Homo sapiens: one gene and its partner. The protein of the gene in region 2 purifies or fractionates together with the protein of the main gene of each other region. This does not show direct contact. Each region holds a gene or a part of one and is shown on either strand. Other genes may lie near its edges.

The links.
Region 1: the proteins of CIMAP1D (region 2) and NMT1 purify together in Homo sapiens (affinity purification with mass spectrometry; 3 studies listed by BioGRID and IntAct, with this or other methods). This does not show direct contact.

Annotation. Positions count from the first base shown.
Region 1 is NC_000017.11:45,067,666-45,071,316, reverse strand, and holds part of NMT1 (glycylpeptide N-tetradecanoyltransferase 1), read right to left. Parts: intron 1-3,651.
Region 2 is NC_000019.10:472,745-476,495, forward strand, and holds the start of CIMAP1D (protein CIMAP1D), read right to left. Parts: upstream 2,240-3,751; 5' UTR 2,004-2,239; coding exon 1,877-2,003; intron 1-1,876.

The sequences.
Region 1 (3,651 bases), on a different chromosome or scaffold from region 2:
AGGCTGAAGTAGGAGGACTGCACCATGGCACTACGATCTGGGTGACAGAGTGAAACCTTGTCTCAAATAAAAAATGAATTTTTTGGGCAGAAATTCAAATTTTCCAGAGAAACTTATTAAAATAAACTCTAACCTCTAATATCCTTTTGATTCTACTTTTAGACATCAGGAAATCCTTTTGCAAATCAATTAACTCTTGAAGTATGGTAAGTTCACTAATAATCCTATTAGTACTCAGAAAGACCAAAGAGAGGTGAATGAAATGGCAAAGATGCCCAGAAGGAAATGACATGGCATGAATCAGTATCAGCTGTCTAGTCTCTGTACTTCTGCGGCTAAGGATCACTCAGTGCAATACCCCCAACTCCGCACATTCCCACCAATTAGTTATATCAAAAACTGCTTGTGAATCCCAAATGATGGGAAAAATAAAAACACTTTAGTACTGCCATCAAGGTACCCTGGGGCTGGGCACAGTGGCTCATGCCTGTAATCCCAGCACTTTGGGAGGCCAAGGCGGGCAGATCACCTAAGGTCTGGAGCTCGAGACAAGCCTGGCCAACATAGCAAAACCCTTCTCTACTAAAAATTACAAAAATTGGCCAGGCGCGGTGGCTCACGCCTGTAATTCCAGCTCTTAGGGAGGCCGAGGTGGGCGGATCATGAGGTCAGGAGATCGAGACCATCCTGGCTAATACGGTGAAACCCCGTCTCTACTAAAAATACAAAAAATTAGCCGGGCGTGGTGACGGGCGACTACAGTCCCAGCTACCCAGGAGGCTGAGGCAGGAGAATGGCGTGAGCCCGGGAGACGCAGCTTGCAGTGAGCCAAGACCGCGCCACTGTACTCCAGCCTGGGTGACAGAGCGAGACTCTGTCTCAAAAATAAAAAATAAAAATTAGCTAGGCATGGTGGCGGGTGCCTGTAATCCCAGCTACTTGAGAGGCTGAGGCAAGAGAATAGTTTGAACCCAGGAGGCAGAGGTTGCAGTGAGCCGAGATTACGCCACTGCACTCCAGCCTGGGTGAGAGTGAGACTCCATCTCACACACACACACACAAAAAAAGGTACCCTGGGAGGTCTGTGAAGAGAACAGCAGGTTATAAAAAGGGATTACAAAAGACCACTTTTGCTGCCACCCTCGGCCCTCCCTGGGATAGTAAGCCAGAGTACTGAGGGTGAACGAGCCAATTCTTGTCATGGACGATAACTGCTTTTTAGAGGTCACAAAAGCTCTGGTATACTAAACTCCTTAAAACCGGAATGAGACAAATGTGTATATTCCACACTGAGTTTGTTTGGCGAGTTAGACTTTGACTTTGCAACTCCAAGGTAAAATCAAATGCTGTTCAGAGACCATTATCAAGAATATGTTGAGCAGTGGCTCAATGCTGGCAGAAATCTCACCTACTAGAATGACTTTTTTTTTTTTTTTTGAGATGGAGTCTCACTGTTGCCAGGCTGGAGTGCAGTGGTGCGATTAGAATGACTTCTGAAAATAATATTTGTCTATCATGAAGAGACAAACTGGGTCCCAAGTTTGGGAACGTCCATAGGCTGTTAAATGGAGCCAAAGATAGGATTCACACTGCTGCAGACTCAAGATGCAGAACTCAATTCAGCAGGGGAAAGAAACCTAGCAAGTTCAGAATGGATCCTCTGAGATGTCAAAGAGACCAGTGGAGATGCAAATCTCAAGCCTCACTATAAAAACTAAAGTCTAGCTGGGCGCAGTGGTGGCTCATGCCTGTAATCCCAGCACTTTGGGAGGCTGAGGTGGGCAGATCACGAGATTAGGAGTTCCAAGACCAGCCTGGCCAAGATGGTGAAACCCCATCTCTACTAAAAATACAAAAATCAGCTGGGCGTGGTGGCATGTGCCTGTAGTCCCAGCTATCCAGGAGGCTGAGGCAGGAGAATCACTGGAACCTGGGAGGTGGAGGTTGTGGTGAGCCAAGATCACGCCACTGCACTCCAGCCTGGGCAACAGAGCGAGACTCTGTCTCAAAAATAAATAAATAAATAAATAAATAAATAAATAATAAAAAATAAAGTCTGGCCAGGCATGGTGGCTCACGCCTGTAATCCCAGCACTTTGGGAGGACAAGGAGGATGGATCACGAGGTCAGGAGTTCAAGACCAGCCTGGCCAAGATGGTGAAACCCCGTCTCTACTAAAACTACAAAAGTTAGTTAGGCACAGTGGCAGGCACCTGTAATCCCAGCTACTTAGGAGGCTGACGCAGGAGAGTCGCTTGAACCTGGGTGGCAGAGGTTGCAGTGAGCCGAGATCGCGCCACTGCACTCCAGCCTGGGCGACAGAGTGAGACTCTGTCTCAAAAAAACCCAAAAAAACAAAAAACTAAAGTCCAGGCATGGTGGCTCACGCCTGTAATAATCCCAGCACTTTGGGAGGCCAAGGCAGGTGGACTGCTTGAGGCCAGGAGTTCGAGACCAGCCTGACCAACATGGCAAAACCGTGTCTCTATTAAAAATACAGAAATTAGCCGGGAATGGTGGTGCACACCTGTGATCCCAGCTATTTGGGAGGTTAAGACACAAGAATTGCTTGAACCTGTAAGGCAGAGGTTGTAGTGAGCTAAGATCGTGCCACTGTACTCCAGCCTGGGCGACAGAGTGAGACTCAAAAAAAGAAACAAACAAACAAAAATCGCTAAAGTCTTCATAAGTGAAATCATGGAGGATATAATCCAAGTAAAGGGCTTAGCACAATGCCCACTACGTAGTAATAATAGTAACATTTACTAAACACTTAACCATAGTGACTCCTCAGTTGTCTCTCAAGAGAGCAGCTCTAGAAAGTTGTTGTTCTGTTTATTTTTTTGAGATGGAGGCTCTCTCTGTCGCCCAGACTGAAGTGCAATGGCGCCATCTGGGCTCACTGCAACCTCTGCCTCCCGGGTTCAAGTGATTCTCTTGTCTCAGCCTCCCATGTAGCTGGGACTACAGGTGTGTGCCACCACGCCCAGCTAATTTTTGTATTTTTAGTAGAGATGGGGTTTTGCCATGTTGGCCCGGCTGGTCTCGAACTCCTGACCTCAAGTGATCTGCGCACTTCAGCCTCTCAAAGTGCTGGGACATTTTTGAGGCAAATACTGAGCCTATGGAGGAATTCCGGTTTAGTATTTTTGGCGCTCTCAATAGAGAACACCATATTTTTGTCCCTTAAATGTAACAATCACAAGGACATCTTCTTTGAGGAATTGGAAGAGAGGCCTGAAGGGTAGAGATTTCAGATAAAAAGCTGAAGAGAAAGAGTTAAAGAAGCATCCTCCTGAAGTTACTAAATGTATGGCTCATAAATCTATGGGCTCTATAGGGAAAGGGTTAACTGCCAACTTAGTAAAGCTGGGGAATTTTAGCGTGAGCATATTAGTTGAACAATGTGAAAAATCAGCAAAACTGCTGTGCCATGAGCAGCGAGTCCCTGAAATAGGCTCTCATTTACTTTCCATTTCTTCTGCTTTCCAGTCTCTTCTCTTTGAAGCAGCTCTTGATTAGTTTCTTTTTAATTGCCATTTAATTGGGAAACAAAATTAGAACACTTATTTGATATCAGTGATGAGGTTTCTCTTTCCATTCTGCTTTGATCTAGTTTTGAAAAACCAAAAGTTGAAGGGAGAAATTAAA
Region 2 (3,751 bases):
GAGACTGGGGCCTGAGCCTCCCAGAGATACACGGTCACAGGTGGGGAAACTGAGGCCTGAGCCTCCCAGAGATACACGGTCACAGATGGGGAGACTGAGGCCCAGGCAGAGATACACGGTCACAGATGGGGAAACTGAGGCCCAGGCAGAGATACACGGTCACAGATGGGGAAACTGAGGCCTAGGCAGAGATACATGGTCACAGATGGGGAGACTGAGGCCCAGGCAGAGATACATGGTCACAGATGGGGAAACTGAGGCCCAGGCAGAGATACATGGTCACAGATGGGGAAACTGAGGCCCAGGCAGAGATACACGGTCACAGATGGGGAGACTGAGGCCCAGGCAGAGATACACGGTCACAGATCGGGAAACTGAGGCCTGAGCCTCCCAGAGATACACGGTCACAGATGGGGAGACTGAGGCCTGAGCCTCCCAGAGATACACGGTCACAGATGGGGAGACTGAGGCCTAGGCAGAGATACATGGTCACAGATGGGGAGACTGAGGCCTGAGCCTCCCAGAGATACACGGTCACAGATGGGGAAACTGAGGCCTAGGCAGAGATACATGGTCACAGATGGGGAGACTGAGGCCCAGGCAGAGATACATGGTCACAGATGGGGAAACTGAGGCCCAGGCAGAGATACACGGTCACAGGTGGGGAAACTGAGGCCCAGGCAGAGATACACGATCACAGATGGGGAGACTGAGGCCTGAGCCTCCCAGAGATACACGGTCACAGATGGGGAAACTGAGGGCCAGGCAGAGAAACACGGTCACAGATGGGGAGACTGAGGCCCAGGCAGAGATACACGGTCACAGATCGGGAAACTGAGGCCCAGGCAGAGATACACAGTCACAGATGGGGAGACTGAGGCCTGAGCCTCCCAGAGATACACGGTCACAGATGGGGAGACTGAGGCCCAGGCAGAGATACATGGTCACAGATGGGGAAACTGAGGCCCAGGCAGAGATACACGATCACAGATGGGGAGACTGAGGCCCAGGCAGAGATACACGATCACAGATGGGGAGACTGAGGCCTGAGCCTCCCAGAGATACACGGTCACAGATGGGGAAACTGAGGGCCAGGCAGAGATACACGGTCACAGATGGGGAGACTGAGGCCCAGGCAGAGATACACGGTCACAGATGGGGAAACTGAGGCCCAGGCAGAGATACACGGTCACAGATGGGGAAACTGAGGCCCAGGCAGAGATACACGGTCACAGATGGGGAAACTGAGGCCCAGGCAGAGATACACGATCACAGATGGGGAGACTGAGGCCTGAGCCTCCCAGAGATACACGGTCACAGACGCCATGTGTTGTGGCTTCTGCAGAATCTCGATGCCACAGGGATCAGGAGAGACCACAGAACCAGCCCGAGGACCTGGCTTGGGGCCTGACTCCAGCCGCTAATTGTGGGTGAGGAAACTGCGGCCCGTCCTGGGCCCTCACCGAGGCCAGCAGCTGATGTGGCTCCCAGCAGAGCCGCCTCCGCACACGCGCCCCTCGCCCTGCCCCACGTTGTCTAGGGCGCCCGTCCCTGAGGGCCACGCTGGAAATATTCCCTCCTCCCCGCGTCTCCCGCATGATCGCTGTGGCTTTGCCCACTGCTGTACCCACAGCCCCTGGAAGGGGACCCGGCTGGCAAAGCACGCAGCTTCCGTTGGACAGACACATACTCGGGGCTCACGGCAACCCCGTGTCCACACCCATCCTGCCGGAAGGAAAACTGAGGTCTGGGGAAGGGCAAGGACTTGCCTGAAACTCCTGCCTCCTGCTGGGCTCCCAGAACATTCCAGAAGCCCCAGAAGTATGGGGAGTGGAGCAGGAAAAGGTCCCACCCATCCCCCACGGCTGGCACGCACCGTTCTCCAGGGTGGCCGTCCCACAGGACTTCCTCAGGCCGGTCTCCGGAATCTGGCCCTCCGTCACTCGCCGGCCAAGGGGGGCTGTGGCCAGCCGTGGGGTGGAGTCGCAGCTGAGGGTCCCCATGGTGGGCAGGCGATGGCCCCCACAGCACCCACGGGGCCTGGTGCTACCTTCTGAGCCGCAGCAGCTCTGGCGGCCACAGGCCCAGGCACCGTCCCCACCTTCACGGCCTCACCACACCCTCCCACGACCACAGCCGCACAGACGGCCTCTTGTCCCGCAGCAGGGAGTCGTGGGGCCCTGGCCCAAGGCAGGCTGGTCGGCCGGACACTGGCCTGGAAGTGGGGCCGGGATCGAGTGTCGGCCAGGCGGCTGGATGGTCCAGGAAAGAGTCCGGTGTCAGCAGAGTGCGTCTCCCGGGAGCCGGCAGAGCTGGGCAGCTGGGGCCAGGGCCGGCCCCAGGGAACTAGACCTGCAAACATGACACCCACAGCCTTGCAGCAGGAGGGCCTGGCGGGGTCGTGGGTGGCGTGGCCCCGTTTCTACACCTGGGGAAACTGAGGCACAGCCCAAGGTCATACAGCAAGTACACAACTCTGGGAGTTTCAGCTCTGAGCCAAGAAGCATTCACTGCCTCATCCTGTCACTCATTCCTGCCAAAGCATGTACTGGGCACCTACTGTGTACCAGCCTCTGTTGGGGGTGGTGAGAACTGGACACGAACAGACGGAAAAGAAGGAGATGTTCTCAGGATGGGAGAGAGAAAGTCGTCAGTAAATGTGATAAGTGAACACAGTCTGGTGTATGAGGAGGCACTGAACGTGAGGGAAAACGCAGACAGGTTTGGGGCCCAGGGTAGCAGTGTGGGTGTGGGTGAGCCCCACGGAGAAGGTAAAACTGAACAGTCCCAAAGCAGGTGAGGAGGCAGCCGTGCAGAGGCCCTGGGGCAGCGGCGAGGACAGCGGGGAGGTGAGAGCCGTCCTCACTGCCTCCCAGATGCCTCCGAGATTTAAACCACAATGGATTTTGATACATTCAAGGCGACCACTGCGTGAGGCTCCAAGAAGAGGCTCAGAAAACTGCCAGATGAGATGCACGTTCCTGTCTCTTCCTTGTTTGTTTCTGTATTTTTTGGAGCCTTTTGCAGTGTAATTTTTTTTTTTTTTTGAGACAGAGTCTCACTCTGTCACCCAGCCTGGAGTGCGCTGGTGCGATCTCGGCTCACTGCAACCTCTGCCTCCCGGGTTTATGCGATTATCCTGCCTCAGCCTCCTGAGTAGCTGAGATTACAGGCACCCGCCACCACGCCTGACTAATTTTTATATTTTTTAGTAGAGATGGGGTTTCACCACGCCTGGCTAATTTTTTTTTTTTTTTTTTTTTTTTTTTTTTGAGACAGAGTCTTGCTCCCCCGCCCAGGCTGGAATGCAGTGGCGCGATCTCGGCTCACTGGAACCTCCGCCTCCAGGGTTCAAGAAATTCTCCTGCCTCAGCCTCTCGAGTAGCTGGGATTACAGGCATGCACCACCACGTCTAGCTAATTTTTTTGTATTTTTAGTAGCTAATTACAGGCACACTCCACCATGTCCAGCTAATTTTTTTGTATTTTTAGTAGAGACGGGGTTTCACCACGTTGGCCAGGATGGCCTCAATCTCTTGACCTTGTGATCCAACCGCCTCAGCCTCCCAAAGTGCCAGGATTACAGGTGTGAGCCACCGCGCCCAGCCAATTTTTTTGTATTTTTAGTAGAGATGGGGTTTCTCCATGTTGGCCAGGCTGGTTTCAAACTCCTGACCTCAGGTGATCCACACACCTCGGCCTCCCAAAGTGCTGGGATTACAAGCGTAAGCCACCGTGCCTGGCCTGCAGT